Linked DNA regions of Homo sapiens: region 2 is linked to region 1. Evidence: fine-mapped expression QTL. A gene starts in region 1. The other region holds a variant in brackets. All regions are shown on one strand. Distances are from middle to middle. Region 1 holds the start of ZNF281 (zinc finger protein 281). Region 2 overlaps LINC00862 (long intergenic non-protein coding RNA 862).

Evidence for each region. PIP is the estimated chance that this variant, and not a neighbour inherited with it, causes the effect. A credible set is the group of variants that fine-mapping cannot tell apart.
Region 2: its variant is the best candidate, but not a certain one, in a credible set for the expression of ZNF281 in whole blood (INTERVAL, PIP 0.82).

Annotation. Positions count from the first base shown.
Region 1 is chr1:200,408,448-200,411,356 of GRCh38, forward strand. It overlaps ZNF281 (zinc finger protein 281), which reads right to left and starts at 1,589. Exons shown (of 2, transcript NM_001281293.2): 1 at 1,499-1,589; 2 at 1-1,276. The coding sequence starts at 1,258. RefSeq lists enhancers at 838-1,415, 1,416-1,993, 1,994-2,571, 2,118-2,167, 2,843-2,909 and a silencer at 1,598-1,777.
Region 2 is chr1:200,352,731-200,355,639 of GRCh38, forward strand. The region is part of intron 4 of LINC00862 (long intergenic non-protein coding RNA 862); the gene reads right to left. Among named protein-coding and RNA genes, the nearest start is that of LINC00862, 20 kb to the right of the region's middle. RefSeq lists enhancers at 1-344, 345-845, 2,655-2,909. The variant T/C (reference allele first, on the strand shown) is at 1,286.

The DNA of each region.
Region 1 (2,909 bases):
TCTTCTGTTCCTTATTTTCAATAGCTATGCTTTTTGACTTTGTTTTTCTCCTTGAAGAACTTGTATTTCCCTGAGACAACACAGCCAGATTACCCATATTGGTATGGTTTGATGACCCAGGTTCTGCACTAGTGGCTCCTTTAACTATGACTTCACCACATGTGCGCCTGTGCTTCAACAATCTATCAGTCCTTGAAAAATACTGTTGGCAAGTGTCACACTTATATGGCTTTTCTCCACTATGTGTCCTCTTGTGTCTCTCCATATGGTACTTCTGAATAAACTTCATGCTGCACTGATCACATCCAAATGGCTTCTCTCTACTATGAATTTTCTCATGTCTCTGTAGTAGGTATTTCTGAATGAAACCCATACTACACTGGCTGCACTGGAAAGGTCTTTCTCCTGTATGAATGAGGACATGTCTCCGCAGGTGATAGGAGCTTCGGAAAGCAGCACTACAGTGATCACAGATATGAGGTTTCTGACTTGGGGAGAGGATGGCACCTTCTCCATCTCCAACCAAAGAAGGTTTGGAAGATGCACTTGGCTTCCTCTTGGCTTTGATTCCCTGAGATTCTGGCTTTGGCCTTTTTGCCTTTTTGACATTAGTGTCCTGCTTTGGCTCCTCAGTGCCATGGTGGTCATCAGTCCTGCTACTGCTGCTGAGTAATACGTCACGGTGGTGCTGGGCTGGTTGCTGCTGGACATGCTGGTGGAGAATACTGAGGTCCTGGATGACGCCGTGACTCCCCCCTTCACCGCCTCCTAGGCCTGGAGACCTCTCTTCAGCTCCAGCGAACAGCCCCCCATAGTGGTGGTGGTGATGGTGGTGGTGGGACTGCTGCTCCTCAGGATCCGCGGGTTTCTCCTGTTTGATGCTAACCAAAGACTGCAAGAACCCCCAGGAGGTCCTCTGCGAGGGGAAGGCCGCGGCTGACGCCGCCGGCTCCTTCTTGAAAGTCATGTCCGGGGCTGGCGGAGGGGGGGGCTCAGCGGCCGGGGCTGCGGAGGTAGAGGAGGATAACACGCATTGCGGGGGAGGGGCGGCCGACCCCGCCGGCCGGGTGAAGCTGGTGACCGGGGGAAGACGGTGGTTGAACATAACCATACCCTGGGGAAAGGTGGGTTCCATCTCTGCCCTCCTGCCGCTGCTGCCGCCGCCGCCGCCGCCGCCACTACCACCGCCGCCGGAGCCGCTACCACCGCTACTGCCGGTACCTCCGCCGCCACTCAGGAACCCACTGCCGATTTTCATACCCCGGAGGAGGCCTGGCTGAAGAAAGGAGGAGGAAGAGGGAAGAGGGAGGAAAGGAGGTGGAACCGGGCCCCGGGCCGGGACCACCGCAGCGCTAAGGACCCCGCCGCGCCGCCGCCCAGACCGCAACGCGCCCAGCACTAATTCCCAGCCCAGTCGCCTCCGGCACCGGCACGCATGGTCCTGCGACTCTTCCCCAGGCCTCGCCCTCTCCCTCCTGGACCCACCGGCAATACTTACGGGTCCCGCCGCCGCCGCAGCCGCCGTCGCCTCCAGTTAATAAAAATAACGCCGTCCTCTCCACAATGGAATTAAAAGCCTCCCGTGTACTGCGCAGCCGCGGCGCAGTGTCTGCTGGGAACTCCTCGACCCGGCCAGAGGGGAGGGCTAAGGAGCCAGGGCGCCTGCGCCGCAGCTTCCGCCCGGCCTGCCTGTCAATCACTGGGGCCGTTGGGCGGAGGCGGGGGAGCAAGGGCAGGGGAGGCGGGGATTTGGAGCCCTGCTAAAAAGGGGCTTTCGAGGCGAACAGGCGTGATTGGTGGGCTGCACTGAAGGAGATGAAAGTGGTTGAGGGTTTCTGGGGGAAAGACGCTCAGGAGGTGGAACCCAAGGGGCGGGAAGTTACGGGGGACTGTACTACAGCGTGGCGTGGGAGATGCAGAGAAAGGGGCTGGAAGAGAAGGTGAGGGAAACTGAGGATTCAATGTTAGGGCTTTCTTCACTCTAGGTTTTGCAATCCAGGTCTTGAAATAAAATTCAAACCTAGAAGTGGATCATTGAGGGCACTTTTGATTCTATCAAGAAGCATTCAACTCCAAATGCTCAACATTTATTAAAACAGGTGCTTATGTTATCCCTTTGAATTTGGAAGCACTAATAATGGGCGCATATCCTTTGCATTTATGGGAGGAGCCTGCTTTGAAACCGCAATTAGTGGTACCGTTGCAACAAAAAAAAAAAAAAGAAAAAGAAAAAAACTTGTCTTACTGCCAACCTTCCTGAAGGCTACTGGAAGAGGAAACCGAGCGTAATCCAGGTGCAGCAGTCCTGTAAAACACGCCCACACACATACTTCATTATCATTACATCTTATTTAAATGCCCCCGTACCTTAGCCTGGCTAATCAGTCTGTTTGCCACGTTATGAATGCCTGGCCCTTTATATTGTTTATGAAAAATTAACCACCAGGCCATTCTAAGAGCTCTGCTAGGATCAACTCTTTCCTCGCCAGTACAGAATACCGAGAAACTCATTGCAAATTTAGAAATTTTTCTTGTAAGGGAAAATTATGAAGTAAAATCTTAAAATCAAAGTTATATCAACAAAATCAAACAACAAATATTTATTCAGTGTCTAATGTACACAAGGCACTCGATTTCATGTTAAGCATGCAGAAATCTAAACCAGACACTTTCCTAGCAAAGGATATTTATAAATGAGAAATTTTAAATAAAAGAACTAGAACTATGACAACAGCTTATTTACATAGTATGTTTTCTTAATGAAGTTACATGTACATCACAATGTTTCTAGCTAAATAACTTCTCATAATTAAATAATAAATTCTCTGGGAAATTTCACAATCGAAACCATAGGGATTATTTACTAATACTTATGGACCTCTCTCAGCCTGCCCTAAAAATTTTACAGA
Region 2 (2,909 bases), 56 kb before region 1:
ATAATAAATACTGCTTGGCAAAAAAATTGGGAATGAACTGTTGATTTGCAACAGCATGAACAAATCTCAAATGCATTATGCCATGTGAAAGAAGCCAGACCAAAGAGAAGAGCACATGGTGTATGATTCCACTCATATAAAATTCTAGAAAGGCGGCCAGGCACAGTGGCTCATGCCTGTAATCCCAGCACTTTGGGAGGCCAAGGCGAGCGGATCACCTAAGGTTGGGAGTTTGAGACCAGCCTGGCCAACATGGTGAAACCCCATCTCTACTAAAAATACAAAAATTAGCCGGGCATGGTGGTGGACACCTGTAATCCCAGCTACTCGAGAGGCTGAGGCAGGAGAATCGCTTGAACCTGGGAGGCAGACATTGCAGTGAGCCGAGATCATGCCATTGCACTCCAGCCTGGGAGACAGAGTGAGACTCCGTGTCCAAAAAAAAAATTTCCTTTTTCAAACTATACCCCTCTCCACCCTGTCCCCATAAACATTGTTCTGAACAGTGAGCACACTGACCACCTAGGAGGTCCCTCATTCATTCTTGAGCCCCCAAGACTTAGCACAGTAAGCAAGCTCTGACTGTCAGTACCCGCCTTCCACATAGGCCATTTCCTGCCCTAAGATCTGTTCTGTTCTCTCCTGGGAATGACCTTTTCCTGCTTCTGTTTCTTCTTCATTCCAGATGCAGCTCAGGAATCTTCTCCATCAGCCTTCCCTGAATCTCTGCTCAAGCCTGTGCTCCACAGCTCCTGAGCATGTTTCTAGCTGCCACTCACCACTTTGTACTGATTTTATCTGTTGAAGCTTCTAGCCTTCCTCATGAGATAGTAAACAGAAAGGGGTTCTTAACCTTTTTTTGTGCCTCCTAAAGCCTTCTCAAAATATGGTAAAATAGACATAGGCATATGCAGAAAACTAATTATGAAATACAGTTATCAAACTATTCAAACATTTATTGGCTGTCATACCATATGTGCCTTGTTATTGATCTAGTGGTAAATCAAATGACTACCATTATTTCAAAGTAGTGATATGTATAAATGGGAATAGCTGTCACTCCTGTGGCTTGTCATTACCATTGATAACTGAAGGAAATACTGTATTGCAGTTAGAGGGTGATAAAACTGTAATCTTTTCCTATAAAAGTTCACAGGGCCCCTGAATTCCACCCAAGGACAAGGAGCCACAGGGCCCTAGAAAGGTTTTTAGAGGGGCTGTGTCCTCTTTATCTTTGGGTTCTCAATGCCCTCAGCACACAGCAGGGAACTTAATATCTCAGCTA[T/C]AAAACAAGGTAAGAACAATAACAATATTAAGTATAAATTCAAAAAACTAAGATAGTTTTTCCTGCTAATACTTGTTACTATTACTACTAGTATGCTTACACCAAAGTGTGTCCTGGAAAATGGTTTACCGACTGCCAAAGACCTTGAAAATACATTTACCTGGAACCATAGCATTCCCTGGCCACCTCATAACATTCTTCAGTTCTTCAAAGTATTAGCATAAAACCATGGAAAGAAATATATAAAGATCAGGGGGATTTAGAGGAGGAAGTCAATTCCCTTAATGTGACCTCACCATGTACAATGTGACCTTCAAATGGAGCATGTAGCTCTCTAAATCCTTGAGAAATGGATGAAATTCCCTTTGCTCAGTCTTTTTCTTCTCATTGCAGTGGTGAATAACGCAAGATGTCTCATGCTAACCACGGCCCTCTCTTGATATTACTAAATACTTCCTTTCTTCTCTATTTGTTGTTGCAGTTATTGTTGAGAGCATTTCATAACAGTGTGAAAACAATGAAATGAGTTCAAGTAAACTGAAGTAACAATGAAGCACCTACAGAGAAAAAAAAGTCCTGTTCACAGTGAGCTTTCACATGACCTTCTTTTTTATTTTAATTGAGACAGGGTCTCTGTCGCCCAGGCTGGAGTGCAGTGGTGCAACCATGGCTCACACAGCCTCAACCTCCTGAGCTCAGGTGATTCTCCCAACTCAGCCTCCAGAGCAGCTGGGACTACAGGTGCGTGCCAACACACCCAGCTTTTCTGTATTTTTTGTAGAGATGGAGTTTCGCCATGTTGCACAGGCTGGTCTCAAACTCCTGCGCTCGAGTGATCCGCCCGCATTGGCCTCCCAAAATGTTGGGATTACATGCATGAGCCATCACGCCTGGCCAACCTTCTTTAGTCTTAACAGTACACATTGAACCACCCACTCCTGGGTCCGGGTGGTGTGTGCGAGCCCAGGTCTGTCTCCATTCTGCTGGCAGTATGGAAAAGGCTACTCCTCTGCCTACTACATCACACCCATTTCCTTGGTATTTGAGGTGAATTGGTTCCTTCCAGCATAATTCTAAAGAACTAAGGTGAGAAAAAAAAATACCGTAAAATCTTTTTTACTCCTACCCAAGAAATTCGGGAGCCACTCTTTTTTTTTTTTTTTTTTTTTTTTTTTTGAGACGGAGTCTCACTCTGTAGCCCAGGCTGGAATGCACTGGCGCGATCTCGGCTCACTACAAGCTCCGCCTCCCGGGTTCACTCCATTCTCCTGCCTCAGCCTCCCGAGTAGCTGGGACAACAGGCGCCCGCCACCATACCCGGCTAATTTTTTGTATTTTTAGTAGAGACGGGGTTTCACCATGTTAGCCAGGATGGTTTCGATCTTCTGACCTTGTGATCCGCCCGCCTCGGCCTCCCAAAGTGCTGGGATTACAGGCGTGAGCCACCGCGCCTGGCCCTGGGAGCCACTCTTACCCTAAATCAGTCACTTAACCCAAATTCAAAAGAATGTTGAGCTAGCCTGTTGGTCCATCCACACCCCCATCCCTGTTGTAGCACTAAACATTGGCAACATTGGAAATGAGCTCTGTAGAAACAAGCGGTTTTGGAAACTGAGTATCAAGA